7 separate regions of the Homo sapiens genome follow, and regions 1, 2, 3, 4, 6 and 7 are each reported to be linked to region 5. Evidence: microRNA targets listed by miRTarBase, many of them from high-throughput screens and not tested one by one. Region 5 holds a microRNA gene; each other region holds the end of a gene's coding sequence. Distances are from middle to middle.
The links. Region 5 holds the annotated microRNA hsa-miR-4662a-3p (AAAGAUAGACAAUUGGCUAAAU, at 2,629-2,650, opposite strand). A microRNA usually pairs through its seed, bases 2 to 8, with sites in the 3' UTR of a target mRNA and lowers its output. Matches are read on the target gene's strand: a 7mer-m8 pairs with bases 2 to 8, a 7mer-A1 pairs with bases 2 to 7 and ends in A, and an 8mer does both.

Region 1 (4,520 bases), not on the chromosome of region 5:
GGGCTAGGCCTCTCCTCAGGTGAGCACATCCCCCTCTGGACTGGGAGCCCCACAAAAGCAGCCATTCTCTCTCTCCACTGGCTCTAAGACAGGCCCTGTGGAAGAGCAGGAGGTGGCCTCTGCATGCTCCCCCGACAGAGCCCCAGGACCCAGGGCTCTCATTCTCTGGGAGCCCCAAGAGGGGTGGGTCCTTTCCCCTCAACCCACATACCACCCGGCCTCGTGTTTTACCAAAGACAGTCTTTCCCTGGGACTGGGCAGAGGGAAATCCCCCAGGGTTAAATAAGCGGCCACAGCAAGAGGTAGAGGGCAGGGACTGAAATGAGGACAAAGATCTGACAAGTTTAAAACATGTATTTAAAATACAATTTATAAAATGCTTAATCTGCCGACTCAGGAGCCCGCGGTGCAGGGTGGGGTGGGAGTGGGCAGCTGCCCGCTACACCAGCAGAGTAAGACTGCAGGGGTGCAGCCCTCCCTCCCATGCCCTTCTGTTCAGACACCCAAGGGGCCCATGTGCACCCCTGGGATCACACGACCAGAAAACAGGACCCCAGAGGTTTCTTGAGTCTCTGCTTACCAGGGAGGCTGGGTACAGCCCTGCCAGCCCATCCCTGAGCAGGGCACCCCCAGATGGGGCAGAGCAGGGTATGGCTGGGCAGGGCAGGGCTGGGCGGGGCAGATGGGCTCTGGAAGGGGCTGATGGTAGCAGATAGGGTGTTGCCTCCTGCCTGCAGGTGGGGAGCACCCTGATTGAGTGGGCTGAGAAAGGTTGGTCACCAGGCCTGGACCCCCCAGCTCCTTTGGTTATAGGCTGACATCAGAGTAGTGGCTCATGGGAAGCGGTTAGCTGGAAGGTCTGAGGCCTGGCCCATGGGGTCAGGGAGGAGCTGGGGGAAGGGGACAGTACCGTGAAGGCAGATAAAGGGGCAGCAGCCTCAGGTTTCTGCCCCCCATCCCCCTGGGGTTTTCCAAGCCAAAGCCTGCAACTTACTTTAAAAAAGAAAAGGAAAAAAAGCACTTAGGAAAGTTACAGACAACTACCCCCAAAAAATACCCTCCCACACACAAAATCCAAACCGTTTCCTCATCTCCCTCCCGCCTCCCCCGACACAATACAGTTTCCTGTTTTCTTTCTTTTTAAAAACGTTGCCTGCTACCTCTCCATTTGGGAAGCCCAGGGCATGACTGCTGGTGGGTGGTGACAGGCACACAGCGGGCAAAGCCCATCTTTGGCCAGAGGGAGGTGGGAGGACCAGTCCCTGCCACATCCTCAATCCACAGACACCCACCAGCCAGCCTTTACTTTGGCCTCCCACTAGAGGGTAGTGGGGCAAGAACAGGTGGTCCCAATGGCTGGGCAATCAGCACTTCTGGCGTTCCCACCTGGACTACCTCTATACCCTTCTCCAATTAAAAGGAAAGTCTCACTTTGGGCGGGAAACCACTATTACATAAGGGATGGACACTACACATTTAGAATGTGGACACTTGGTTAGGGCAGTGGAACTATAAAGATAGCAGCCAGTTTTCTTCCTTGCCTTCTCCTGAAGGTAATCCTCCCTCTTACTGACTGAAGCTCTGGTTCCAGCTCTGCTCATGGGCAATGCCTGGCTTTACAGTTATAAGGCTGTGCTATGGACTAGCTGCTGACTCAGCTGGCAGCTGGCCCTTCCTCCGGAGGAGAGGACGTGTTGGGGCATGGCTTACTGGGCCTGGCCTACCATTCCCACAGGGAACCAACGAGGGAGTGAGCCTGTGAGACTCAGCTTGCCACCTTGGCCACCACGTGCTGCCCTCATCACAAAAACCACACCAACCACTCCGAAACGTATCTGCTGGTCAGGAGCAGGGAGGCTGTCTGGCTGGCTGAGGGATAAGGCGCAGTGCAACGGAAGGGATCAGGAAGCCTGAGAGGAGCCAGGTACACACAGCTGCTCTGGGCAGCTGCCCTCTTAGTCTCTTCCACCTCAAGGAGCCAAAGCAAACCCCAGGCTCCAGGGACAGAGGATAAACTGCCTTCATTCCAGGCCCTCGCTCTGGAAAAAGGGGTGACGGGTAGCCTAGGCCTCTGAGGAACCAGTCTGTCATCAATCTTTGCAAAGCAAAGCTGTTCTTTTTCCAACTTTATTCAGAATGTTCTGCCTTCAAGGTACTGATTGCACACAGGAAATGTACCAGGTATAGTTACTGAGCTGGGGCCACCAATGGAGATGGAGCACTGCAGACCCCTAAGAGTTCAAGCCATGCTGGAGTGGGAAGACCTATCCACCTTCTGAACATACGAGGCAGAAGGCTCAGAGTCCTGGAGGCAGACTCTCTCCTGGTTTTCCTTGTGCTGATGGCAAAATACTAAACAAGTCTTCTCTCCGTCACTTCTAAGCCCAGGGATGCAATCTCACTCCCTGGCACTCTGCTTTCTTCTAGAAGTAGTAAGCCTGGCTGGTAGGGAACCACCCTGAGGGGTATGGGAAGGGGAAGTCGGTTCACTTTCCCTATCTCCCAAAATACTAGAGGTGGGGTTGGCACCCTCCCCAGGCTCTCCGAGCCTACAGAGCTAGCCCAGTCTCCAGGCAAGGCCCAGATGCCCTGGGACTTAGCTCGGGGAGGGAGGTATAGGCATGGGGTGCTCGTCTGTCCTGGCGGCTGCAGAGCCCTGCCCCTTTTCTGGGCGGCAGTAGGAATACAGAAGCTAAGCTCACCAAAATCCTATTGGTTAATGTTTCTAGTGAATTTCCCAGAAACATTTTTAAGTAGACTACCAAACTACCCTTTCTTAATTAAAAATTCATTAAACCACTAAAACCCCTCCCATGCACTTTTTCTTGCAAATCAGATATTTGTATAAACAAACAAAAATAGGAAGAAAAAAAAAAGAAAGGATATTTTCAAATGGAACTTACTTTTTAAGTGATGGAGACATGCACTTGGGGGTGGGTGGGTGTGAGTTTTCATTTGTGTTTTGAAATCCCAAATTAATGAGCATGATAAACTGTTATTGCTGGCACTGGCTTTACCCCAAGTGGCCAAGTGGCACTGTCTGACTCTCTGAGTCCTTGCTGGGTCCCCCCAACCTTCCCCTAACCCCCACCCTTTCCCTTTCCATTGACTTGGGACAGCCCTTGTCGATGTGCCAATCACAGTGGGAAGGGGGAGAAGGGGGGAGGTCACAGTGCATGGGGTTCAAGGTCACAGTGGGCGGAGCAAGGGGGATCACAGTGCAAGTAAGTCAGGTCGTTCCCTCTGCTCAAGTCCAGCTGTCTGCCACGGCAGTGCAACCCGTGGCGGACGACCCAGGAGGCGGTGACGGCAGCAACGGCGGCATCTTTTCTTGCCTGCATTTATCTGCGCTGTTTGAAGCCTTGAGACCCATCAGGACCCAAAGGCTGTCTGATCACATTATTGGGCTGCCTGCTGTCTTCGGGTTGGGAGATCCTGGTTGGCCTGAAAGGAAGAAAAGCAGAGGAAGGCCTGAAGAAGGATATAATAGATGTCCCCCATCATTTCTTTATTTTTTATTTATTTTTGAGACGGAGTCTCATTCTGTCACCTAGATTGGAGTGCAGTGGCACGATCTCCGCTCACTGCAACCCCCACCTCCTGAGTTCAAGTGATCCTCCTACCTCAGCCTACCGAGTAGCTGGGACTACAGGCATATGCTACCACACCCAGCTAATTTTTGTAATTTTAGTAGAGATGGGGTTTCACCATGTCGGCCAGGCTGGTCTTGAACTCCTGACCTCAAGTGATCCGTCCACCTCGGCCTCTCAAAGTACTGGGATTACTGCACCTGGCCTAGATGTCCCCCATCTTAAAATCAACTGTCCATATAGCTGGGCCCACGTCACTCTGGCTCCGCAAGCCTGCTTCTTTGGGAAGCTGACTCAGGGCACCTCCAAGTTGAGAGGCCCCTGTGAGCAGGCAGGGTCGGTGGTGCACATTCACCTCTAGCAGCTACAGCATCCTTTCCCCCTGCTCAGCTGCCATCATGCACTTGTAGGCAGGGGGAGTGCTTGAGGGCCCACTCTGCCCAGAGGCAGTGACCATGGATAGCACATGCTCCGCAGAACCATTTGGAATCTCCAGAGTGTTAGGCCAAAGTAAAGAACTGGAATCAAGAGCTCAGCAGAGGGACACATCCCCCGCCCCCCAATTCTTCCCTCCCACTCCTCTCCAAACTCTGCGGTTAACGGTTGACTCATATGACTATTTTTCCACCCTGGAAAGGTGAAGACTTAGAGGAGAAACAACAAAAAGAACAGGTATCTCTTCAAAATTATGAAGAGCTAGAAAGAAGGTACGCAGATTTTTTCTTCAAGTCCCAGAATACCAAACCATAGCAGCCCCTCAAAGTTAGAAGGAGGCCATCTTAATGAATACTGTTTGATTCGAAAGTGATAAACTTATATGATGCAACCTTTAATACTGCAGAGAAAAAAATGTTAAGAGTAAAAAGGAATTTAGAAAATTCACAAAAACATCACAGTGGGCATACTGGAGACCCAGAAAATATCATCAAA
Region 2 (4,520 bases), not on the chromosome of region 5:
CTCAAGGACACTATTTCAGGGCCTTTTAATTAGTTGTCCTTCTTCCTGGAAAAGTTGTTCACCCCTCCAGATACTCAAGTCTCTGTTCAAATGTCACCTCCTCAATGAGCTGAGGCTTTCTCTGACAACCTTATATAAAATAAGAACGCCACCTTCCTGACCTGGTCTCCCCACTATGCAGCATTTTTCACCAAAGCACTGATTACCTGGCAGGCAATCTGTATGTTTTCCTATCTCCCTACATTCTACTATGTAAACCCCATGTGGACACAATCTTGTTTTATTTGCTGCTATACTCTGAGCAACTGGAAAAGAACCTGGCACTCAGTAGATGTTCAATAATTTGACTTTCTGACATAATAGTTGCCTATGAGAAAAGATACAGAGAAGTTGAAGAGGAACAACTGATGTTACTTAGGTAATTGCCAAGACAATTTTAGAGCAGAAAAATAAAAAACAAAACAAAATGCTACAAGGTGAATGGGGGGAGCAAAATGCAGCAATTGACAGTAAAGACTAAGTATGAACAGTTAAGAGTTTCCCAAACACTGGATCAGCAAAGTTTAGGACGCCTTCAGAACTGAGCCCAGAAAGAATGGTAGGGTTTATAGGAGCCAAAGTAGATAAATACCATGTGCGACACCAGAGAAGGGTAGATACACGAAGTATAGGAAGGGTGTTCATTGTATACAGCATCACCTTAAAGAATAGTTAAAAGATGGTCTAGTGAGACTGGAAAAAGCTGATAAAACTTTAAATAGACTTCTTTCATGCAAGACTTCCTGTTAATTGTAATATAATATTAATCTCTATGAGAAGAAGTACAATATGCAGTATTTCCCTGCATTAATCACAGAGTCATTTTTTTTTGTTAATCATGTGTATGTCATTGCACACACGGCTTAGCTTCACTTTTGTCACTAGCATATTGTTATCCATTGTTATATTTTGTTGTGATATATGCCTATTAAATTAACATAGTAAGAATAAAAGACTCTTTTCATTATTATATTTAAACCAAGTCTGAAACTCAAGATTCTAAATACACACAGAGGCCAGGTGTCATTTATCTGATTTTTCAATATTTGCTAGACTTTGTTTAGGATATCGCAAATATTATAACTGGGAAATAAAATCCTGAAATGCTATTTTCACTACCCCATTCTTTATTCAATTTGTACTAAATATTATCACTCAATATGAGAACAATTTAAGCCTACAGTATTTTAAACATCCTTTAAGTGCTGATAAGAATTTTAAGTATTTTGAACCCCTTAAGATGTAGATATTTATCTTTAGACTTAGACCTAAATAAACATATTAAAAACAAAAACCATACCACTGCAGTAGCTTAAAGGTACTTCAGAGCTTATCGCCCAGTCCAGCACACCTATAAGCCTCACCACCACATGTATAATAAAGAAACCATGACGCCTCAATGTCACATAACTAGTCAAGTACCAAGATCAAAAGTGGAGCTCAAGTCACCTACCTTCCCAGTGTGCTATCTTTTTATCACACCACAAAAGACTGTGACGTTTTAATTGGAAAACCTGAAAAATAAAGAATGTAAAATGTGACAAAATCTGGGGTAAATCAACTCCAATAGCCTTTAAAACACATGGTTAGCAAAAGTTAAAGACTTTTTTTCTTTCTACAAAAGAGGCAAGACAAATCAAGTGTAAAAGCTAGAGATTTATTGTTATTTTATGATTAATAAATTGTCAAATTAGTTATGACACTATCCCACACTGAATACCACCATTTGCCAGTACAGAAGTTTTTAAACCAAACTGAGGCATAAAGCAGAAAGAGCAAAGACACATGAATACCCTTCTTAACAATCTCTTCTACTTATGCCTCCACCGTAACCTTTGTACTTGTTTTCCTCCTGGGGAAAGTGTCAGAACAGTGCAAGGACTGGTGGGTAACCTGGCCTCTTAACCTTTTTAATAGCAAGCAACATACAGAAGTAATGCAATCAACTTGTATTTCCCTTGATTTTATTGGTCTGAATTCATTTTAGGTTACTTTAACATTTTAATTTCCTGTAACTGTACATGAGAGAATATAATCACCTAAGAGAATACTGAACCAGAGTCAGCCAAATGTATCACTGACCCTCAATTATGTTTTAATTGGTCCTAAAGGAATGTACCACCCCAACAGTTTGGGAGTTAGGCAAACAGAATTCTTTGGGGGAGGGAAGAAAAAGGCTATAAAACAGCCAAATGTACTCAACATCATTAAAACGGCTCTTTGTTTTTCACCCCTGAATGATACTTCTTTACTACACTATATGCACAGAAATCCTAACAGAATCTTGGTTGCCAGTATTATTTAAGCTGGCCCCATCCAGGACAGATTCCGCTGCCCCACCCCCCCACCCCGTCCCCCTTTCTCTGAGGCTCTGAAAAGCACAATATTTAACTATTTCTTAATAGAACTACCAAAACACTTCAGAAACAATTGGCTCACAACTCATTTTAAATTTGTGTATTGCCTGTGCATGAGAAAACAGATAAACCCAAAAGATAGTTCTATTTTTTTATGGCGATTAAAAATAACTGAAACATCAAGACACTTTTTCAGTGAAAGCAACATTTCAATTACAAATTTTAATGCCTGTTAAACTACCTATGGGAGAAGCTGAGAAGTCCTAGGCAAATGCACTTTGGGGTATACTACAGTGTTCCTTCAGTCTGCACAAAGATTAAGGTAATTTACAGTCAATCTGTGAATGAATGTTGAGACAATGTTACATTATGTGTCTGTACAATTAATTGTCCTTAAAGAGATAACCAGAATCAGCTTTTCTACTGTATTTTCAACAAACCTGACTAACCGGCACTTTTGCTGGGAGATGTTTGTCAAAGATGCTGTAAGATTCTATACAATTAGGAAATACTCAGCTTTAAGAGTATTTTCTTATCTTCACTTTTTTAGTTACAGGTGTTTTGCTCAGAGAGCCTATTGCAGTATGTTTCCAGAAATGCAGTCCCAAATGTGCATACTCTATATTGTATACAAATAAAACAAAATTATCAGTAGTATAAATCTTACAGCATTGTTTGCAAAAATGCATGCCAAAGTCACAATAAGCAATACTGTACCACAAATTATAGAGTGCAAATGATTTGCTTCTTTTTAATGCTTTTATTCTACATAAATTACTACCATAGGCTAATGTTTAAAAAGCAAATAAACTGGACAGATGCAGGACAAAATCTGGTCACCCAACTATAAAAGGTGATGTTTTTAAAAAATTACAATAAATGCAGAAGTGATGCATGCAGTAGCCTTAATTCCCACTGTTCCAGAAAAGAAAAATACAGAAAAACCCACACATCTTACTGTACTCCACCTTAAAATGCATCATATTGGGTTTGTTTATAACAGCACAGAATTCCAAGAGTCAAAATGAAATAAAGCAGGTATTTTAAAGTTTAAGAGCCGTTATCAAAAATAAATTACATTTTTTCAAGATACAGAAATGCTGCTATGATGGCTGGGAGCCCAGTAACCTTTCAATAGCTGCATTGATATCACCTCCTGTTGCTATTAGAGCTTGCAAGTTTGCTTCACGGTTCAAAAATCCCATTGCACTGAGTTGTTCCAGTTGTTGCTGAAATCTGACTTCTGGATTCTGTAGCTATTAAAGAAAAAAAAAATTAATCCAACTCTAAAGGAAGCCAGTCCCTGCCACACATGACTTTTAAAATTTTTTAATTGCTTTTTTATAACATATGCTGATCTACTGAGCTTTAAAAACACTGCCCACCTCTTGAAACTTATCCAACATATTTAAAAGTCCATTAGCAGTTTATTTTAAATAGTCTAGTTTGTACCTAAATAATCATGTCAAATAGATCACGACTCTACTTTAGGGGAGGGGGAGAAAAGCTTAATAAACATCAACCATTATTTTAGAGGATCACGTACATGCAGAAAAACCTGTATGTGTGTGTGTATATACATATACATATACACACACACACACACACACACACACACACACACACACACAGATAGTTCAGAATTAGATGATTTGTGTAGCTACTGACCAATTGAGTAACTATAAAAGCTGGTATCCTCATGTATAAAATTCTAAAGCTTCAATGATTCTTCGAATGAATGTGAGTTTAATTTTTGCACTGGACAGTCAATTCTTAGAAAAGAGCTTCAGTTTCAGGCCCAAAATTATACTCTTAATTCTGACATTTCAGCAGCATCAAATCTTTTCTTCAGAAATGAAGTTAAAAAAAAAAATCTCCATATAAATGACCAATCAATCCTAGGCCTACCTGATAATTTGGAGGCTTGTAAGTTAACTTATGTCACAATTAATTCTAATACTCCAAATCCTTCTTTCTTATTTATTCCATGAATATTTACTGAGTACCTACCAAGAGCCAGAAACTATGCTACGCTAGCTTATCAGGAATACAGATATGTATGAGACAGAACCCTACCCTATTTATTATATTTAGTAAGGCTTGAAAACAGAAAGCAGGCCAGGC
Region 3 (4,520 bases), not on the chromosome of region 5:
CCTGAAGCAACCCAATTAGAACCCTTTCTGATACCGTCAACTTAAAGAATTCAGAAGCATTGGTTTTTGTTAGGCCTTGGTAATTTTTCTGTAAATAATGATAAATGTAGTGAATTTGTCAAGGTATCTCTAGAGAAAAGTCGGCAAAAGCCACATACTTTTTTATTTCACTGGAGAAACTAACTCTGATGTTAGTCCATAATTGCTCATTCTGTCTAGCTAACAGAAAAAGAAATGCCAGCAGATAAAGTGATATATGACCAGACAATTGCTCAAAGCTAACCACCTAAGGATTTACGAAAGGAAAAGGTAACCAGTAACTGGGCCTGGCAGGCACACAGAAGGCTCTAAATAAATGCTGCATGGACGCAAGCATGAATGAAGGGTACGCAGTGGCCTCATTTTTCCTTTGGACAATGTGGTACTTAATAGAGTAAAATCTTGATCCTACTTAGTTATTATGTTTCATGTTTGAAAATACCATTTTAGATATATTGGGCTGAAAGGAGCATCTTCCCTCATAAAATCCTACATATGTAAGGAAGGAAAAATACTGTGACTTGCTCAAAATCACCCAGGAAGACTGGGTCCAGCACTTTTTCCACCTTACCTCCACTTATTCTTGTGTCGCTATTGACCATCTGGGCCTGTTAGGAGAGTGTCACAATCATGGCTTCAGTGCCTGCACCTCATTTGAAAGGAGATGTTGAAAATCATCAGAGTAGCCATTCATTGCCACATGAAACCCCTCCCTTTACCCATTCTCCATTCATTCAACTCTTCTTCATTAAGAACGTTCTGTATTCCAGGCACTGGGCTAGGCACTGAGGATTGAATGATAAACAAGATGGTCAAGTTTCCTGCCCTCCTATAACTGCCCCCATCAGTTAACAAAACCCTTATTTGTATTTCAAGTGAACAGAAATACCTCATTCTGTAAGATATACTCAGAATGTTGGAAAACCCCAATGAAGACAATGAATTATAATTTCAGAAGAATAAGATCAGTTTCAGTGTCACAGGATTTTTTATTGTCTGTCGTGCCTTTACTTTTCCCAGCGAATCCCTCCCGCATCCCTAACGTAGATCCTGATTTCGTGGTTGAAAAGGCAACTTCTAAAACACACGTTTTTACAAATTGTGATTTTAATTGTATTTTTCCTTTTGTCTTCCAGTCCTGGTACCTGGGATAAAAGTTGCAGCGTCCCACCATCCACCAGACAGACCACCTGACCCCTTCTCAACTCTGTAACATGGACGCAACCTCAACCCAGCGCAGTTACAACTTCACTATCAGCGGAAGGGGAGAAAAACCGATTCAAATCAACTTGTACATGGAAACAGCAAGCATTATGGTCAAACAGCAAAGGCCATAACCTTTTGGGATTTTTTTTTTTTTAAAATACTTTAGGGACTGTTGTAATTTCTCATATGGTGCTGGAAATGGTTGGGCTTTGTAACATTTGAAGTGTTTCCATGGTAGCGTGAGCATTAGGTGACGTGGCTAGCGGAGGACTACCCTTGCTCACTGACTTCCTGTTGTAACACACTTTCCTTACGGAGCCTGGCTGTTTCACAGTATTTCATGAATTTACCCACACAGGTGTGATCCTCCTTGAGCATTGAGGAGGCACATGGAGAACTAAATCTTTTGTAGTAGCTGAGATCTGCAATATATAACGGGACAGTCAAAGGGCAATGTTTTTCTGTAACATATTGGAAAAAGAAAATGCAGTTATATTCCTTTTTTATTTGTTCCTTTAGTTTGTTTTGGTTCAGCAGTCAGCAGTTAAGTATATAACATGGCCCGCAAGGACAATGAATCCACTCACATTGCAGAACAATTCCGAAAATGGCAAACTACTACTACTACTGTTCAGTTTTTTAAAAGTTTTGAAATGCTGCACTTACATTTAAAAAAACAACAACAACATTTTTTCAACAATTTCAACAATGACACAAAAATTCACATGGAAATGGGGAAGATGGTCTGTTTTGACAGAAACTGACAGGAATCAATCAAAACAATCGAATTTTGAATTGAGTAAAGTGCAATTTCATTGGATAGCTAAATATCTTTGTAAGATAGAGATTGTTGAAAATTCTATTTTTGTTTTTCTAGTCCTTTCACCCCAGGACTCTAAATTATTGGGGTAAAAAACAGCCTTGCAAGAAAAAGGGGAGCTATTTTTGCTTTTTATGTTTTTTATTGTTAAACTTGTATCCCTTTAAAAACTGAAGGAAATTAAAAAAAAAAAACAAAAAAACAAATCTAATGGTGCTTTTACCACAATATGTTAACTACATTAAATGCTAATTAATTATTTTCTGTTATCAAAGCACATGACTAAAATGAAATCATGGTATCTGTTAATTTTATAAGCTAGAAGTCACTATAATGGATTACGCCAATTCTAAAAAATTTTACACCTATCTGGCATCATAGGATTTATCAGTTATCAGACACCTCATTGTACCAGAGATTGTCCAGAAGTTTTAAAGACCTTTGCATCCCTGAACTGGGCTATGGGAAATAATAATAGTAATAATAATAATAATAATAATGATGAAACCAATACTGACACAAATGCTGGTGCCCATTCAGATCAAGGGTACTTGTTAGGGAAAAAAAAAAAAGTTTGCACCCCCAAACGTCCTGTATCTTATGAAAAAAAAAACAAAAAACAAAAACAAAAAAAAAACACAAAAAACCACAGAAACAAAAACAAAAAAAAGTGCAAGTGATTTTTCTACCAGACAGCGAAGCACCCCTTTGCTTCCCATGCGACTTCAAGAAGGTTTCCTATACTATACATATATATACGTTCTGGTTGGCAAGCCCTGCTGATCAGAGAAAGTCTCTGCATGTTCTAGTGTTAGTAACTAATTTTTATATAGTTAATGTAGGATAAAGTAGAGTGCATTAAGACACAATATTGTAATCCCTACTCTAGGCACTTGCCTTTAAACTATGTTTTTCAGCCCTTCAGAAGGGTTCTACTACTGTCCTATACAATCAAGTAACTGAAATTCTTGGGAAGACACTTTGCTCCTCATCTTTCTCCCCGAAACAATGTTGTTTTGTTTTGTTTTTTTTCCTTAATTTGCACGAAAACAAAAATTCCATATCAATGTGCCTTGCCCTGGATAGCGATTATTTGTGGAATTGTTGCACATGCTCCTCTATTGAAAGGGGTTTTTCCCTAGTCAAGCATTTGGAGACACTTTTTGTAAATGTGACTTTTATGTCAGCCATCGTCAGTTTCAACATCTAGAACTAAATAGAAAGCTAGTTGTTCCGCAGATAGGAGTAGTCTTTATTGTCCTGTACGGTCGGTGGCAGTGCTATTCTGAGATCTGTAGATGCTTAGAATATCAGTATTTTGGATGTTGCTGCATTTTACAATTTATTTGGAGTCTTCCTTTATTTTCCCCCAGATATATGAAAATATGCAATACCTGCTTATATCATGTAGAAAAGCTTAGCAATTATTAATTTTTCTTTTATTTTTTTTTATTTGACCAAAGTCGGTGCTGCACTTGACGCAGTGTGTTTTAGGTGTTTGTCTTTGTACTTTTTTGTGATTTTTGAATGCACGTGCGCAGGAAGGGCTCCTCTTAGAGAAGCAGTCAAACTGTGAAGCACTAAGCTGACCCTGCTTCAAGCAATTTTGTTTTTACAACTGTTCCTTTCACAAGCAAGCCTTAAAAAAAAAAAAGACAACTTCCTTTTTCTTCAGCTCCCACACCCCATTTTTCTTAGCAGACTGCAGTCAATCCACATTCAATAAAAAGTATATAATGCCCATTTTTATATGCACGTTTTTAAACTTCCAAGTTCTGAAAATTGTTTACTGGTTATCTCTATTTAAGGAAAAAAAAATAAAATAAAACATTTTGGATTTTCATATGTGTCTGATAAGTGGTTGAATAGTCGTTTGGCGCTGTTGTATGGTGTGATTGTCAGTGTATGGTGTCACTTCCTATAGCCAGCCAGCATACTTTGCCTTCCCCTATAGCACTTAGCTGGGCATTACTTTATTATGACATATGTGCACTAAAAAATGAAAAAAAGGAAAAAAAGAAAAAAAAAAAGAAAAAATAGCAGCTTTCAGTGCTTCACAGTGAAGGGAAAAAAGCCTAGACAAACATTTTGTCAGAACCTTGCAATAAGCCAAGGTATTACCAGTAAATTGGTTGTATATACAATAAAATTGCACCCTTTTTTAAACAAAACAAACTAAGCAATAGTTTGGGCAGTTTTAGTTGTTTTTAGTGAGCATGTTGTAGTCATGACTGCAAAGAGAGAGAATAAACTGCCCGCTCAGAAGATATGTAATTTGTATTGTTGTATAGTTTTATTGATTACACTGATTTATTCTACCCTATTTTATAATGCAGGACTTTTGTAATGTTGTTTAAATGAGGAAAAATTTCTGTCAAATTAGCCTAGTAAAATTTCTGATCGTTCATTATAAAGGCAGCGTTCATAGAATTGCTTTTCTTTCTTTTTACCCCCC
Region 4 (4,520 bases), not on the chromosome of region 5:
AAATTGTTAGTATACTATTTTGTAATTATTTTCAAAGAAATAAATAGGGAAGAAGTAACTTCTCTGGGGCATGCAAATGACAAAGAAAATAGTTTTCTATTTAGGTTGTGTGTATATATTGTATGTGTTGGTTTCTCTACTCTTTATGAGATACTCATTAATCTGAGAAACCTTCCGAGTATTCTTCATGATAAAATAAAAAAATATATTTTACAATAATTACATTGAAAAAAATCCAAGAAGAAAAGTTATGGATGGAAGCACTTACTTTTAGCCATCACTCAATTTCTTAAATTTTTTCTCTCTTTCACTTAAAGATCTGCCAAATTGTGTTCCTTTTATTACCTTAAATAACTGTCAAGAAAACAAGGTTCTATGAACCAGGACAACAGTGTGGCAGAAACAGTAGTAGAAAGGTTATTTCCAACCATTTAAAACAACTATAACATCATTTCACATTCAACTGACAACCGCAGCTTAAACTTGAGAATGGACAAGGGAATAATAATATACATTTTTCTTTTTCATTATTTCGTCTTTATCTTATGCATCAGTATTCTTACGAAGGACCTTTTTTTCTTCCATTCGAGACTGTGTGCTTTATGAACTGAACAGATGTTGCCTTTCATGTGATTAAACAATAATTTTTTCCTGCTCATACTTCTTAACCAATTCCTACCTGCCTCTCATCATGAATCATTGAAGATAATTCTCCAGTCATGCATTTAAAAAAATCTACTTGAAAGAAAAGGTCAAAGAGAATTTTTGAATTGACCACTTAATTTAAAATATGTTGCCATCAATTAGCCAGTGCTATCTACTTTTCTCCTAAGAACAGAAAGAAATGACTCCAATGATTTTACTTTCTTTGCTTGGCTTAATATCCGTGGATCTTGCTATCTTCTCTTGAGAAGAACTTGGCCTTTCATTCTAATGACTCACAAAAGAAAAGGCAATGACACCTGGGGCACATATGTTTTTCTAAGTCACTTGAAAATCTTTCACTTGGGAAAAAGCTGTATAAAAAATCTGGGCCTGGTCAACTTAATATAGATATTTTAAAACAGTAGAACTAATGGCAATAGAACACCTTTTATTTTGGGGAGGAGATGGAAAGTTTAAAGATGTAAGAAGTAATGCTTGATTTTTTTAGATTTTACTGAATATATAGCAGTATCCTTATTGTTTTCAGGGAAACTAGGAAGAATTGGAGAATGTGTAATAAAACTGCACGATTTGACAGATTTAGACAGCTGGCTCCCTCACAAGAAGTTCACATTTTGTTAATGTCACCCACGTTGAATAAGGGACAATTAGATGGTAAGGTCCATTTACAAAAATGGTTGTCAGGACATTTTTTTTTAATTGTAAAACTTTCTGTGATGGAATTCAGTAAAAGGGCTATGAAGAGAAAGCAATGGAGACAAAAGATTGCTATTAACCTACAGATGCAGGCTACTGCATGGTTCATTGCAAGATTTGTCACACTGTTGGGCCAATGAAGTGTTAGTGTGACTAGAAGGGACCACCCCTTTTCTGGGGTAAGAGGGCAATTTGGTCTCCATGCTCATTTAATCCTGAGACTTCTTTGAATAGACTGTCAATTGAATCTAAATTGTGCAAAATTATGCATGCACTTTTTAATGCAGGCTATTGTTCACTAAGCACTGAACCAAGATTTCTCAACCCATTTCCATTTGGCATGAGGTCACTTGAAACTTAAGTAATCATATATGGAAGACAAGAGCAGTGTACTTAACCAATCTTTCTACATTGTGGCTTCTATATAAATGCTTACTGGGCTTTAATTGCAAATCTCTCACCTTAAAACAATAGAGAAATACTAGCTACAATATATTTTTTAAATTGAGGCTTGTATTCCTAAAGGTAAGGAGAAGGTTTAGAAAGTCAGCTGGCGCTGCATAATCTATACTGCTCTACAATTTAGATTCTAGAGGAATGGATGTTTACAGAAGAAGGACAGCCATAGTGGGTGTGCACTTGTCATGAGTAGACGTGTTTTTTCACTAGTGCAAAGAGGCCTTATATTTTGTTAAAATCCAAACGTGGAGAGCTGGCTTTGAAAACCATGAAGAAAAATATCTACTAGACTTTTTGCAGTTTTAAGTCAGAACATGTCATCTCTGTAAAACCCTGAACAGAACATTTACAGAAAATTTATTGATACATTAGCCAAAGAGTATTTTCATTGAGTTCTGAAGGAACACGTACATTTAAAGTCATATTTGGCAAGAATTATTATGTTAAAAATTTGTACAGGTGACAGCTTACATAGCCAAGATTTTTAAAAACAAGTGAGCTCTTCTCCAGTGAGGTTCGATTCAGTGGAAATCTGCAACATTCTAATAACATAGACTCTGACAGTCTTGCTATGGTGAAAAGCACTTTACAAATGTTTAATGCTGGAATTTTATAAGGATTGGCTGTTTTCTTGCTTTTTCATCCGTCGTTAATGATTACATGTTGGCACAAGGATACCTTGCTAGATTAGATCCACAGCACATTAAAGACTGTTTGCTTTCTCACTCCCCTTCTTTCCAATTAAGTTGGTGAAAAATGTAACTTTAGTGTTTTACAGGACAGGGTAAAGGTGTTTCATCTAGGTGATGTCTATATTATAAAAATAAAATAAAATATATAAATATGTAACACAAACCCAGTGCCTATTGTTAAATAAAATATACAATAAAAGCAGACCTTTTAGGAAGATTGATTTTAAAATATGCTATTATGATTTAATTATAAAACACTTGAAAACAATCTTGAGATTAAGATGAAATAACCAGATTTCTCAGCCAATAAAAAGGTAAGTGTGTAGCATTCTGTAACTGGATACACTGACAAAAATGAAGATTACAATTTTATATCAAGTTGCTCACTTAGAAATTCATCAGGGAGTTCTGAAACATTCTCTCCTAGTATAGTACTTTAATATAAAAATATTGCCTTTTTTTTAATTAGATCCATCGGATTGCACAGTACTGTTTCAAAACTCTATTAAAGTTGACTTTAGTGATTACAGACAGAAAATTCCTGGGAAGTCAAATAATCTCTTCTAGTAACATAAAAAATCCATTATCAATTTACAATGGAATTTCTGTGTAAATTACTTTGCATAAGGAAGTATATATTTTAAAAAATCATCTGTTATGCAACAACGCATATAGGGGTTATGAGTATGTGTATGTGCATATGTGAACAAACATGCTGACATACACACAGAGGATCTGCACATTTCTGGAAATTATTTTTAAATTAATAAAAGAGAATGAAATCACAGGAGTGTGTAGCAGGATAACAGTCTTTTTTTTTTAATGACAGGATAAAAAATAAATGCCCATTGGAATAGAATATTCAAACAGTCCCAGAAACTATACAATGTAACTTGTTAGATCCAGCAAGTAAGATGTCATGTCAATGATCTGATCAAGAATACCTGCCCTGGTCACTCTGCGGATGTTTCTGTCCACTTGTTCACATTGAGGACCAAGATATCCTTTTTTACAGAGGCACTTGTTCGGTCTAACACAGACACCTCCATGACGACATGCTGGCTCACATTTTGCTGGGAGAGAAAAAGAGCAAGAACATCACACTCTCATTCTGTATGTCAGAAACAGGACTGAGCATGAGACCAACAAATATTTGCTGAATAAGGGAAGCGAGGGAAAAAAGGAGGGAGATAGTTACAAAATGATCTGAAAGATAAATATGCAAGTAGGAAACAGGCTTTTACACCCATAGTTATTTGGAGACCTGAACTCAGCAGAGAATGAGAGACATTTCTAGAGAAGCAGAGATCATGAGAAACAATTGCAACCCTTTGCAAAATTAACTCTATTTAAAATGAAGATTTTAGTCCTTTGAAATCTCTGCTTCACAGGAGCATTCTCTACAGAGGGCCTCCCAAGCTCTATGTTCCCATTCCTTCAAGGTAGGATCTCAACATGGGAGTGGCCCAGCCTGAGGGGGAGACACAGAGGCTCAAGCAACTCCAGTGCAACAGAAAGGAACAGTCAGTTTTGGATTTTGGTTGGGTGGAATATCCACCATATAAACTCCCTTGGATTCTTCCTTCCTCTTGCTTCCAGGGGGCAGACAGCATATGCTTTGCTCTCTGATTACACTTAGAAGTCTCTTTCTGGAGTCAGTGCAGTTGGCCAGCAAAGGATGTTCTGAGCAAACCTTTTCAGGGTTACCCTACAGCACAGAATTTATTCATTAAAGAATTTTACCACTACAATATAAATGGGAAATAAGAAGATATACTGCTAAAATGAGACATAAAATTGGGTATATAAATTGCTATTTTCTGATTAAATCTGGGGAGTACAGTCACTGGGGATGGAGTCAAATTCCTTCAATACATTTCCTTATGTTTTGACGAGACAGGGTCATTTTGACCTTTCAAATGCGTTAATCAAATTCCAGGTGTCTGTGGTTGACACATGGGATAGAAAAAGTAAGAAGAAAATAAACAATTTTATGCTTTAAATCTG
Region 5 (4,520 bases):
TAAACAAATTAACCTCATGGGGCACATGATTTGGCCTGTAGGATAATTGAATCTATGGTAAGGGGCATTGTTTTATCAAGAAGTAATTTTAGCCAGTTCCTGTTATGATCTTAAACTGGGGAAATACAAAACAATAAGATAAGGCTTATTGAACATTTACTCTGTTGGATCCTGAAGCTTCATTCAGATTATCATTTGCATCCCTTAAAACAACAACATCAACTACAGCTCTTATTTTCATTTTGCCAATGTAGAAACTGAGGCTCAGAGAGATTAAAAACCTTCTCCAAAAGTCACAGTAAGTAAAGGAGAATCAGGAGTTGAACTCAGGAAATCTAATTCCAGTTTCCACACACTTAACCATTATAGCTTATTCCTTTCCTCTTACCAAATAAGTGGAACCCTGCCAGGCTCTTACAATCTAGTTCTAGAATCACTGAGTGTTACTGGCAGGGACCTTTAAAAGTATCTAATCTAATGGTCTTTTTAAAAACAATGAAACTGAGAACCTGCAAAGGCATGTGACTAGCCTCGATGAGAAAGTGGCCCAACTGGGGCTTGAGCCCAGGTCTCCCGCCCTCCATGCTGGTGTGCCTTGGTAGGAGTGTGGACCTGAACTACAACAGGTCATTCACCCAGGCCCCCAGCTCTCCATCCCACAAATGGGCAGGGAAAGGCAGGGAGGTATAAAACACCGGCTTCCTACCTTCTGCTTCGATCCACAGAGAAGACTTAGGCCAGAGTGGCCCTGCACGTCCGCCTTTCCCCTCTCAGGGAGTCCCTCTTTCTGGGTTTGAGTCTTGCCAGTCCGAAACACGTGCGAATAGAATCCCAAAAGCACAGGGCCCAGGCTTTTTTCTGGGCGATGTGCTGTTTTTTTTTTTATATCTCAGACTATGGCTGTTACTGTCCATGGGCTCAACTAATGCAGAGAATTGTAGGACATCTAGCCCTGCTCCTAAAGGAGGCAAAATGATCCTTATCATGCCTGTTATAGCCAAGGAAGGCTGGACCCAATTCCACAGAACTCGAGATGGCGCTTTTCATTTCAAAGAAAAGACACTATGAGCCTTTCTCATATTTCACAGCATGCTGTGTGTTGCACTTGACCTCTACTCTTGCCCTCAGCTTCCCCAGGTGGCCTCGCCTCCCTGCTGCAGCCCCAAAGCAGTAAAGCTACAGCTCTGGGCCATGGGCTGTGGCTTCAGTGATCTAGGACCTGATTCTCCTAAAAACCACAAATGGATAGTTCTTCCAAAGACCCAGGGTCCTCATAGAACTCTCTAGAAACAGTAATGATCTCCTTGGAGCTCAAACAGTCCCTGAGCTATCAGACCCTGCCAACACCAGGGCTTAATGCTCAGGGAACACATTTTATGAGAGCAACTGTCACTCCTGAGCTTCTGTGGGTCACTTGAAATCACCCAGTTATTTTTCACTCAGCTGAGGGGCAGTATAGTTCTGACGGGTGGCTTTGGGTTCACTGCCTTCAACTCCAGTCAGAAAACGTTAGTGCTGAAATGGATCCGGGGTACAAATAGTTGGGTTGTTGACATGCTTTCTTCTGTTGTATACATAAAGGTTCCACATACAAAAACCTATTTGCAAAGAGAGGTCAGATGCTTAAATGTGAATAATAAAAATGCTTATCCATGGGTACTCTAGTTTAATCTCCTCATTACAAGAGGAATCTGAGGCCCAGAGAGAGAAAGTGACTTGTCCAAAATCATACAACTAATATTGCAGCCAGCAATAGAACAAAGAGAGCTCAGGAATTCTGGGTCCCAGTGACTATGGAAAACAATTGTCTGAAATTTTACCACTAGAAATTGCTACTCCCTGCCCCATACTACCTGAGTCTTATTTAGGTAAACAGATAGTAAATATAAACATTATCATTGTAAAAAAATGTTTTAAAGACCAAATATATTTATAAAGTTTTTTAAAGTGATCTTTTGTACCCCTTTGTACTCTACCCAATCCCATTCATTTCCCGAAGGATGTCCGATGTTAACAAATGAGTGTCAAGTCCTTCTAGGCCTTTTTCTATGCACTTAGGAATGTGTTTACAATATATGACTGGGTTTTAAAAATACATACTTATATACTATATGTATGTAGATATAAGTATAAATTTATAAGCCATATTTATATATTATGCCATTTATAAATATAAAATCAAATTGTTCTGTTTTGAGACTTCCTTTGTTCACCTAACCTTGTGTCTTGGCACTTTTTCTCTCTCTTTTTTTTTTCTTTTTGAGATTTTGCTCTTGTTGCCCAGGCTGGAGTGCAATGGCACAATCTCAGCTCACTGCAACCTCCACCTCCCAGATTCAAGCGATTCTCCTGCCTCAGACTCCTGAGTAGCTGGGATTACAGGTGCCTGCCTCCATGCCCACCTAATTTTTGTATTTTTAGTAGAGACAGGGTTTCGCCATGTTGGCCAGGCTAGTCTCAAACTCCTGACCTCAGGTGATATAACCATCTTGGCCTCCCAAAGTGCTGGGATTACAGGTGTGAGCCACCGTGCCCATCCATGGCACTCTTTCCATGTTGGTCAATAGAATCTTGATGTTTTGTCGATGGCTTCATGGTATTCCATTGTATGGATGTACCACAATTTCTATTTAGCCAATTGTCTATCTTTAGGCATTCAGAATAGCTAAAGATGGACAATTGGCTAAATAGACACTGTGGTACACAATGGCTTTTTCTGTTGCAGCCATGGTTGCAGTAAACTTCCTTGTATATAAATCTCTGGGACATGAGCCAATGTTTCTTCAGAAGAGATACCTAGAAGTGAAGATGTGAGATCATTTGTCTACAGAAGGTTTCACTTTAAGTTGTAATGACTCGCCTTAATGTTGTCCAAAGGTTGTTTTTCTAAACCTTATTTGAGGGCCCACAACAGCCATAAACTTTTACTTATGTTTCACCTAGAATCATCACAGCAATCCTGTGAAAGCAAAGTATGATCCCTATTTTTCAAAAAAACTCACTGAAGTAGGAACAGACGAAAAATATCTCAATTTGTGAAAAAGCATTTACAAAAAAAAAAAAACATCTAACATCATACTTAATGGTGCCAACTGAACGTCTTCCCACTGAGATTGGGAATAAGACAAAGATGTCTGCTTTCAACATCTTCTTCAACAGGGTAGTAGAAGTTCTAGCCAGTGCAATATAGCAAGAAAAAGAAATACAAGACATACAGATTGAAAAGAAAGAAATAAAATCATCTCTATTTGCAGATAACATGATTGTCTATTTATACAATCCTAAAGAATCTAAAAAACATAAACTAAAATAAACCTCCTAGAATTAATAAGTGAATTAAGTAAGGTCACAGAATACATGATCAACACTCAAAAATCAAATGCATTTGTTTATCCTGTCAATGAACATGGGGAAACTGAAATTAAAAACAATACCATTTACAATCACTTCAAAGAAAATAAAATACTTAGGTATAAATACATATACTATGTCTCTGATGAAAATTACAAAATGCTGATGAAAAAATAAAGACCTACATAAATGAGGAGAAATACCATGTTCATAGACTGGAAGACTCATCATAGTGGAGATGTCAATTCTTCCCAAATTATCAATAGTTTAACACAATTCTTATCAAAATCCCAAAAAGATTTTGTAGACAAAGCCAAGCTTATTCTAAAATTTGTATGGGAGGCAAAAATTTTGAAAATAAAATAGCTGTGATAACTATTTTAAAAAGTAGGAGGAAGCACTCTACCTTGTGTTAAGTCTCACTATATAGCTACAGTTGCCAAGGTAGTATGATATTGGTGGAGAGATAAACCCACAAATCAATGAAACAGAATAGAGGACTCAGAAATAGACCCACAAAAATATACTCAACTGATTTTTTACCAAAAATACCAAAAGTGCAAAAGCGAGTGAATGAAGGAAGGAAACTCTTTTCAACAAGTGGTGTTGGAGCAAAAAACAAAACAAAACAAAATCTCTTGTTTTAACTTAAGTCTCATACTTTAAAACTTTATACAAAAATTAACATAGATCACAGACTTAGATGTAAACATAAAACTTCAACACTTTTAGAGAAAAATATGGGAGAAAATCTTTAGCACTTAGAGCTAAGTTAAGGAGGTCTTAGACTTAAAATCAAAAGCACAATTTATAAAAGAAAAAATTGAGGCATCTTGATACTTCATCAAAATTAAAAATGTTTGCTCTGAAAAACACCCTATTAAGAGAATGAAAAGGCTGGGCACAGTGGCTCACACCTGTAATCCCAGCATTTTGGGAGGATCACGAGAGGTCGGGAGTTCGAGACCAGCCTGACCAACATGGAGAAACCCCGTCTCTACGAAAATACAAAAAATTAGACAGGCTTGGTGGCAGATGCCTGTAATCCCAGCTACTCGGGAGGCTGAGGCAGGAGAATTGCCTGAACCCAGGAGGTGGAGGTTGCGGTGAGCCAAGATGCGCCATTGCACTCTAGCCTGGGCAACAAGAGCGAAACTCCATCTCAAAAA
Region 6 (4,520 bases), 94 Mb from region 5:
ATTGCATCTTTTGCATAAAGCAACAGATTAGTGCTGCTTTCGATTGCTAGGAGCACACTGCCAACTATCAAGAGGAACCCGTTTCCAAATTTCATACTATTAGCTTATATTACTACAGTTTGAGCCTGTACCACATTATGCTTGGATTATTAGGTGCAAACATCATCAGTGTTTTAGAATTATACAGTGAACTAGTACTTTTGGTTACTAACTTTCATGCTCATTTTTTAACTTCTAACTTCCAGTTGCCTTAAGAGTTTAATGTCTTCAAGGCAGGGATTCTGTTATTTTGAAGGATACCATGAACACTTGCAGCTCCATGTATGTTACAAATGACAATAAATAAAATGCATATTGCACAGATAAGAATAGTAGCTTATTTTATAAGATACATGGCAATACATGTCCTAAGACCAGAGTTTTGAACTGGATCATATTTAATTACGGCTAATGAATTCTTGGGAATTTTAAGTATCAAAAAGTCATAGCATCATCTCATTTTTGAATGATTAACTATGAAAAAAATGAAACAAAAGGACTGGCAGAAGGCTTAATAATTTTAGAGTATACTCAATTGCCAGTATATATGCATCTATTTAATCTGCAGCTTTGAGATGGTAAAAACTTTGAAGTATACATACAAAGTAGAAAATCTGGCTGCTTAACTAATTCTTTACTTAAATAATTAATGGAAAACTAAATTTAATAATGTTTATATACAATGAGTTAAAGATATTTATCTTTAAGTCTGACATGGTATTGTATGTATGTATACACACATATATATGTATACATGTATATACATATGTCTGTGTGTATATATATAGATATAGACACATACCCAAATCTTATCAGACCCAAAAGGTAAAAGGAAATCATTTAGACCTAATGGATATAAATATTTTAGAAAGGAAGACTTTAAGAGAGTGTATACACTCATAGCAATAGCGATAGGAACAATCAAATACTAGAATATTCACAGCTCCAGTTTGCCAAAATCTGACAGGTTGATTATTATTAATAGGCACTATGATGGGCAGCAATAACAATCAGTAGTACAGTAATTCAAGTGCACATCATTCCTTCATAGACCAAAAACTACTTTTTTAGCAAGCCTACATAGTTATTTTACAGTTAGGACTGTTTAAAAATCCTTGCTACTTTTAGAGTCTCAACACCCACCATGTGCTATTAGCTCTAGTACTAACATTATCTCCTAACCTTCAGTTGTTCCATAGTGATCCAGATGGTCCACAATTATAATGAACTAATGAGATTCCTTCACGCTACTAGAGGAAATGTGAAATACAATCTGCAAACCAACACTAGTATATATGTCGGGGTTACTGATTGCTTGTTCTTAAGTAACATAAACCAATGAAATTAATTTTTTTAATTCATACCATCAAGTTTTCTTAGTGACCTCACGTAAAGGTATTGGGGGACAAAACTCTGGAAGAAAAAAATCGCTGATATAATTTTAAATTACTTTTAGCATATAAAAGAAGAGCTACATTCTGATTTGAATCCATGCAGCCAGCTCTCATCAATGAGAGTGATATTTGGGGGTTGAAATCAGTGTTCTGGCTCTTAAATATGATTAGATGGACTTATTGTGTGGGAGGTGAATAAAGCCAAGATAAAAGACAATAATTTCATTCAGAAGAAAATATAGCTGAATAGATGTAATTTCAGTCAATTAATACAGGATGGGTTGGTACACATATAACACTATATCCACTTGTTTAAAAAATTGCTTAGGTGTTGAAAAATTGCTGTGGCACTTCCTGGAAAGTAATTTTTAATACAGGTAAATGGGTGAGTCTTGTGTAAAGTCAGAAAGAGCACCTTGGAAAATGCCTGAATTTTCCTTTCAAATATATTTATAACCAATCTTCAAATAATATTTTTCTCAGACTGGAAATTTGTATTCTAAATTATTTTTAGAAAAAAAAAATCCCCACCCCCTCCAGAATTAAAACACCTGTAAAATTCAGGATTATATTGGAAGTGTTGACATGGTTTTAAGGGTAGCAATTGCAAAAGTGCTACTAAAATATATTATTACAGGTATATTTTTATATCAGTTAATTGGTACACCAACCCTTCTGAAAGAGTGTTAAAGAAGAAGCATAAAGTATAACACCTTGAGTCCATGATATATTTTGGGGAAGAAACCTCTTGCAATCTTTAAATTAGCATGAAAAGCTACACCACCAAGATTTCCATAGCAAAGCCATTGGATGAAGCCTCCCACTCAATGTGACATAAAAGTAATTCCTGAAACTTTGGAAAGTCAATAAAAATATATGGAACATTAAGTAGAGGTAAAGAAGGGATTGTAACTAAACTTAGAATAACGAATTAAAACTCTCCCATGGCTTTGATATGGCAACTATAAAATGTAGGGTTACCACAAAGTTTGAAATTATAGAATACTATAGTATTCTTAAGAAATATTATGACATTATATTTTTAAGGTTTAATTAGGTAATAAGATTTGATCCTTTGATGGTATATTCAGTTATTCAACGGACAATATACGTCTACTTGTACTTTTATAAGTAAATATTTATATATACCGGAGGTCAATTTCTGTTTCTGTGGTAACTGCCCTACAGGTAAGCTTAGCAGCTTTTAATGAAGTAGAATTGAAATACTTTTGGGGGAAAGTCACACTTCTATTTAAGTATATGTATCTTTTTTCGGGATTATGTCATAGTGCAATGTAAATCTTAGTTATGGTATTTAGAATGTCAGAATGTCACATTTTGTGCTGATTTGCATACTTCAATAGTCTGGAGCAGTTGAAGCAGCTAAACTATTTAGCTCTGGGAAGGTTGGAATTCCCGTAAGAATTATAGTGATCTATGTGTAACATAACATGAGAATCAGACTTCCTGAAGTATCAACTACTAGAGGTATTACTAATAACAACGGGCCAAAAAAGAGGAAAAACTTCTTCAAAGGATAATGGATCAGTACTTTTAGCCAATTTGTGATTTTAAATTTTGCCTGATGGAGTTCAATTTCACTCTAGTCGAGGCATTCTTGTTCTTCACCACTGGCCTTTCTGCCATCCATTCTCTTTTCTTTATGGCTGTTGCAAATTTTCCTCATCTCTTCTTCATACTTGATAAAATTCTCCCCAAACCTTGTCCAAGCTTTGAATGGAACAGTAATAGTATTACGGTAAGGTGGTCTCACCTCACTTACCTTCAGGAAAATTCCATATTTATTAGAGCCCACATCAAAGTAGAACCTTTTATTGTCCACTCTGAAAGAAGTCCCCTCTGGGAGTTCAAGCGGGTCATCGTCTCCACCTCTTCGTTCTTCTATGTCTCCTTCGCCATAGTCTTCAATCAGCTGAACCAAGGCATCACGAAACTCAATCATTCCTTGTGCTGGGAGGACAATAGTCTGTTCTTGGCCCAAACTGTGGCCAAAATAACCTATCATGCCAGTCCCCCGCATCATGGTTTGTCTAATCCGTAGGAAGCGACCCCGCTGATTTTCCTTTAGGTCTAGGTAATATTTCCTATTGTCCCTCTCGATATAGTCTGTTTTCAGGACACTGTGAGGATGCTCTTCGGACCCCACCGAGACTGGTGGGGAGGGTGCCGAGTGCTTCTGCCTCCTTCTGGAGCCTTGCTCTTTGCTGTGGCCATGCTCTTGCCGGTGGCCTTTCAGGCCCAGGTGGGCATAGTGCTCGATGAAGTCCCCTAGACAGTCCTTCAGCTCCGCTGCCACAGACAGGGAGAGGGTCAGTTTACTCTTTCTGATGTTGTCCTGCCGGCCTCTCCCTATCCAGACTTCGGCTATCTTTAGGAAGCGGCCCCGGGAGCTTTGCTTCACGTCTAGGTAAAACCTCTTTTTCTGGATGTCCACTCGTTTGGAGGCCAGCTCCTGGATTTCGGCTGCGCCCCCGGCCTGATTAGGGGTGGCTGAGGCCGCGTAGTGGGGGTAGTGGGAGTGCTGGGCCTGGGGATAGAGTCTACTCTTGCTTAGGCCAGAGCCCCCTACATTCTTGCCTCCGCGGCCGCGGCCGCCGCCGCCTCCCCTTCGCCTGGCTCTTTCCATCTTCAGCTGCAAGTAACAAACAGACACACGGGATGGGGTGGGGGAGGGGTGTTGAGAACAATCGCAGACGCCCCTCGGCCTGACCGCCCCGCCGCCGCCCGCGACCCCCACGCCGGGCCCGGCTCCCCCGGCGCCGCAGCGCGGGGCTCCAGCCACTGCCGGCCGGTTGGCGGCCGCCGCTCCGGCTCTGCCCGCGCTCCCCGCATCCCTCCGCCGCCCCCGGGGCCGCTCCCGCACGCCGCCGCCGCCCGTCCCGCGCTCCGCGGCCCCAGGTCTCCAGCCGGCGGGCACTCACATCATCTCTGCCATCACCGCCGCCGCCGATGCCCTTCACGACCACCGCCGCCGCCACCGCCAGCTCTCGGCCCCTCTGCTGCAGCCGCCGCAGCCGCCGCCCCCCGCCTCCTCCCCCGCCGCCGCCGCTCGCACTGCCCCCCGCC
Region 7 (4,520 bases), not on the chromosome of region 5:
GGGGAGTTTGGGGGAAGAGTGGGAGGGTGGCGAGGGATAAAACACTACAAATATGAGGCAGTATGTACTGCTTAGGTTATGGGTGCACCAAAATCTCTCAAATCACTGCTAAAGAACTTACTCATGTAACCAAATACCACCTGTACCCCAGTAACTTATGGAAAAAAATGAATGACAGCAGAGTCCTCATCAGAACCAATATTCCTCCTGAACATAGATAGAACTAAACAAGATTTTGACAAATCAACTCTAACAACAAATTACATAGATAATATGTTATGACTAAATGGGTTTATCCCAGGTGTGGAGGGTTGATTTAATGTTTGAAAATCAATGAACTAAAATAGACCACCTCAGTAGACAGAAAAATTATTTGGCAAAATCCAACACCCATTTCTGATAAAAACTCTCAGCAAACTGGGAATAGAAGGAAACTTCTTACCCTGATAAGGGCATATATGAAAAACCTACAGCTAACATCATATTGAAAAACTGAATGTGTTGCTCTTAAGATTAGGAACAAGACAAAGGTGTCTGCTCTCTTCACCACACCTGGCCGGATTTTTTTTTAAACTGTTTTATTTCAGTAGGTCTAGTTGTTCATCTTACTGGATTTCTTATACACTATTCTGAAACCTCTTGTCTTTGTGTTTAGATCATTTGGGTGTCTGAGGTTTATTTCTTTGATGTTTTTCATCAAAGCTGCTCAAAATACGTTATTGGTTTTCTGTGCCATTAAAAGTGAGCTCACTTCATGTTCTTGTTGAATTCTAACTGAAGCTCATTTCTCCCCTTTTTATTTTCAGATATTTGTATCTGCTGTTCTCCGGTGATGACCTTTTACCTTTAGACCACTGGGTGTTTAATACAGAGGCTCACCCTCTGCCTGTGTTACATTTAGCCAACACCACACTTTCAGGTAATCCTGCTGTTCGATGAAAGCAGTTCCAGAAGGACCATTCTCACCTGTGTTTTGTTTACATGGACCACTACAGAAATTAGTTTGAAGGGGCGGCTTTTGAAAACCTGGACCTCTATGTCAACATGACAGGGTGAAACTATTCCCCCTAAGACTGTTCAACTTGTAGATACATCAACTTTGAAATTATTCCATTTTATACCTGACCAAAACATGTTCTGATATGTGTAGGACAGAGACCTGGATGTGCTTTGATCGTTAATGAGGTGGTCACATGAGAAATGATACCTGTTACTACTGTATTGTTTTTAGAGTCCTGAAGTCTGGAGGCTAGACTTCCTGAAAGCAAGTCAAGAATATAGAGCACCTTGCAGGAGTTCAAGATGGCCTTTGGAACCAATTATGTATTTGTTTCCTCCTACAGTGGAGCAGCATTCAAATCAAATATTTACATATTGCTTATCACTTTTTCTCCATTTTAATAATGGAATGAACTAAAATAAACAAGAACAAAAGAATAGTATAATTATATCAGTAACAAGAAGACTCAAAAAAGAAACAGGAGTACCTATCCCTATCTGAATTTTCAAGTTCCCCATTGGATGACCAGACTGGCAACCATTTCAAATCCCAGTCTATTTCATTGAAATTTCTTGGTTAAGTTTAATTTTCTCTGGGGGCATGATCTCACAAAGAATACTCAAGTCTTTTTCTTCTTATGGAATCATCGAAACTGCTATTTATCATAATCACCACTTATGAGCCTGGGTTTGGGATTTTGTGCATGTAGTTCAGTCTAGTGTTGGTAGCATGACAGAAAGTGGGGAAAATGCCGCAGTTTGTTGCCTTGAAACCTAAGAGCAATCCTTGGTTTTGTTGCTACATTATTTTTCCAGACCAACACATCTACCAAGTAAATTTTATTCACTTTAATTTCATAATAAAGTTAGTAGAGTCACTCAACTTACAACTTTATTTATGTGGCTTGGCAAAAATCACTATAAGGCAGCTCTAAATTTGCCTTGATAAGCTAAATAAATTACTTTTATAACTTACTAAAGCAGAACAAACAGTGAAACTTTCTAAAATATTCTATCTGGAATAGGGACAGGGGATCTTTTATTTATAATCTCATCAGATGAGTGAGTTGTTCACAGATATTTTATGTTTTTTTAATTTTCTCCAAGAATATTTATAGAATTCCAAAGAATCAGAATAGTTTCAAAATAATTTTCAGTGATAAAAGAGTGTTGTAATTAATCATATTACACTAAAATTGGGATACATCTAAGGAACTTTATCTTACTATCAGTAGGTTTTGCATTGATATTTCTTTTTAAATAAACTACTAGTTCTTTATATTTTGACAAAAAGAACTTAAATTTTATCAGGAACTGTAAGATAAATATCTAGTGCTTATAAATTTTCTGTCCTTAAATTTATGTGACAGTGCAAGATACTTTTGCTCTTTTCATTTAATATAGGCATCTTCCATTGACATTAATAAAACTTAGAAACAGTATAATTAGTATAACATTTACTCTGAATTTGAAGATTTCCTGAAACAAAGTTTGTACAAGAAGCCCACCTTGGAATTCTGAAGGCTTATTTTCTTGTTTGATAAGCTTTTCTTTTAAACTTAGGTTTTAAGTTGGGGAAAGACTTAATTAACTAATATAGTATTTTCTAAGGTTGATCATCTTATACCACGAATCGTTAATTTTGACAGTTCTACTGATCCGTAAATGATAACCACTGCAAATTTTTTCAGTATAAAATTTTTCACTGCAAAAAAATTTCAGTAGAAAATAAGGATGCAGGGCCAGTTACAATAGTCCTTAAGAGAGTTAAATTATAGCACATGTTTTGACATTGTAATATCTTTTACTACTTGAACATTTAAATTTCTAAATGAGAAAGGTATATATATTACTGTAACTGTAGAAGGGAAAAGGGAAAGTATTTGGTTCTAAAAAATGTTAGCCTTCCTCGTAAAAGTAGCACAAGCCCACTTATGAATCACTGAGAAAAAGTGAAAAACTTGAGTTGGCAAAGATGCAGAGCAGCAGTGCAGATGGCAATGAACTCTCTGAATTCTCTTTTACCTTATTTAGAAGAATGCAGAGTAAAGGGACCTTCTTGGTTCTGCAGGAACTTCTCAAGGGATGAGGAGACAGAACCCCTACTTCCAAGTGCTCTATTTGTATTACCCAGATGACTGAAGCTTAAGAGAAGGCAGGGAAGTATACAAGCAGAGCCAGTTCTGGTACAAACAAAGAATTTGACAGGGACAATGGAAGGGTCTTCTTCACCACTCCTTACCTTCTATGTGATGGAAAGACTAGAGCTTATAAAAGTACTTCCATTTTTTTATTCTCCTGAATACCAAAGGCAATTAAAGTCAGCTACAAATGACTTGCCAGTGTCATGTTTTATTTTTGTTATAGATTTTTAAATTATTTCCTTCAAGATCAATTCTTATCCCATATAATGCTTAGCTTCCAAGAATATTCTTTACTTTCTTCTGTCTTTTACAGCTCTTTGCATTTTGTAGACCTTAATACTCAGGTTAAATATTCATTGCATTTATAAGATCTTCTGCAAAAAGCCCAGAAATGGTCCTTTTCAGGTGCCTCTTCAAAGAGCTGACACCTTACCTTGTGCCTTTGGCACAAATGTGCAGAATAGATACATCAGTTGGTGCATAATCGAAAAAAATAGGAATTTTGAACACTGTTCTTCCTTCTACATTTATTTCTCTTCATTTTAGAATCACACTTTTTATGTTAAACCAGATTATTATTATTATTATTATTCAACCAGTATTAAGTTGTTAAAACCAAGGGAATGGGGCCCTAACCAAAAAGAAGTCTCAACTCAGAAAAATAAGTCCCCAGTCAGGTGGTTCTTACTTTCTTGTGGGTTGCACATTTTGTATCTCTCTAACATCAGCGTATTCCTGACTTTAAGCAGGTGTTTATATGTAAAATAAAACCTGGGTATCGAAGGGAAATGCATTCTTTTTATGGAGTATTGACCCTGATCCTCTATGATGTCATATAGAGCAACTCAGGGCTATACTTGCTAGATTTTAACCAAGCAGTTTGAAATATTAATCATCATCCTCTCATCTTCTCCACTCTCCATTGCCAAAGTCTTTGTCAAAACTCCAAATTTGTTGATAAAAGATTGTGTTTGCCATTCTCATTTATAATGCAGTTTCTCCTTAAGCCTGGAGTTTTTTGAATGAGTGCATGAGTAAATGAGAGAATGTGTGAACGAACATTTATGAAGTATCTAACATGTGCCAAGCATTGTGCCTGGCACTTTCAATCATTAGAATGTTTTATGTGATTCCACAGCATTTTCTGTATGAGAGTAGCTCACAACATTTTAAATGTTTCCAATATGAATCGTGTTACAAAATTCTTAATTTTATATTTCATATAAATTAAAGAGGAAAAAGAAAAGGTTTATAATATATTTTAAAACAATGTGTTACTGTATAATACAACTATAATTGTAGTTAATAACTAAAACCTCTTGAAAATGTCAAAGAAATACTTGATTTCTGATGCAACTTTGACTAAAATATTTACTT

Region 1: the mRNA of SZRD1 is a reported target of hsa-miR-4662a-3p. Seed matches in the 3' UTR shown: 7mer-m8 at 1,515-1,521.
Region 2: miRTarBase lists UBQLN1 as a target of hsa-miR-4662a-3p. Seed matches in the 3' UTR shown: 7mer-m8 at 2,532-2,538.
Region 3: the mRNA of NFIA is a reported target of hsa-miR-4662a-3p. Seed matches in the 3' UTR shown: 7mer-A1 at 2,660-2,666.
Region 4: the mRNA of HHIP is a reported target of hsa-miR-4662a-3p. The part of its 3' UTR that is shown has no 7-base or 8-base seed match.
Region 6: miRTarBase lists PURG as a target of hsa-miR-4662a-3p. The part of its 3' UTR that is shown has no 7-base or 8-base seed match.
Region 7: the mRNA of MAN1A2 is a reported target of hsa-miR-4662a-3p. Seed matches in the 3' UTR shown: 7mer-A1 at 2,218-2,224.

The regions. Positions count from the first base shown.
Region 1 is chr1:16,393,962-16,398,481 of GRCh38, reverse strand. SZRD1 (SUZ RNA binding domain containing 1) reads right to left here. Exons shown (of 4, transcript NM_001114600.3): 4 at 337-3,444. The coding sequence ends at 3,342. It also overlaps a transcript of SPATA21 not described here. Among named protein-coding and RNA genes, the nearest start is that of SZRD1, 29 kb to the right of the region's middle.
Region 2 is chr9:83,658,288-83,662,807 of GRCh38, forward strand. It overlaps UBQLN1 (ubiquilin 1), which reads right to left. Exons shown (of 11, transcript NM_013438.5): 11 at 1,681-3,652. The coding sequence ends at 3,500. Among named protein-coding and RNA genes, the nearest start is that of IDNK, 37 kb to the left of the region's middle.
Region 3 is chr1:61,454,128-61,458,647 of GRCh38, forward strand. NFIA (nuclear factor I A) reads left to right here. Exons shown (of 11, transcript NM_001134673.4): 11 at 1,176-4,520. The coding sequence ends at 1,193. Among named protein-coding and RNA genes, the nearest start is that of NFIA-AS1, 200 kb to the left of the region's middle. RefSeq lists an enhancer at 1-391.
Region 4 is chr4:144,736,830-144,741,349 of GRCh38, reverse strand. HHIP (hedgehog interacting protein) reads right to left here. Exons shown (of 13, transcript NM_022475.3): 13 at 1-3,586. The coding sequence ends at 3,393. The region is part of intron 1 of LOC124900791 (a long non-coding RNA gene); the gene reads left to right. Among named protein-coding and RNA genes, the nearest start is that of HHIP, 93 kb to the right of the region's middle.
Region 5 is chr8:124,820,157-124,824,676 of GRCh38, reverse strand. MIR4662A (microRNA 4662a) reads right to left here and starts at 2,692; the gene lies at 2,626-2,692. It overlaps MIR4662B (microRNA 4662b), which reads left to right and starts at 2,619; the gene lies at 2,619-2,699.
Region 6 is chr8:31,028,703-31,033,222 of GRCh38, forward strand. It overlaps PURG (purine rich element binding protein G), which reads right to left. Exons shown (of 2, transcript NM_001323311.2): 1 at 4,376-4,520; 2 at 2,148-4,086. The coding sequence starts at 4,080. The coding sequence ends at 3,037. Among named protein-coding and RNA genes, the nearest start is that of PURG, 2.4 kb to the right of the region's middle.
Region 7 is chr1:117,522,019-117,526,538 of GRCh38, forward strand. It overlaps MAN1A2 (mannosidase alpha class 1A member 2), which reads left to right. Exons shown (of 13, transcript NM_006699.5): 13 at 807-4,520. The coding sequence ends at 939. Among named protein-coding and RNA genes, the nearest start is that of TENT5C-DT, 81 kb to the right of the region's middle.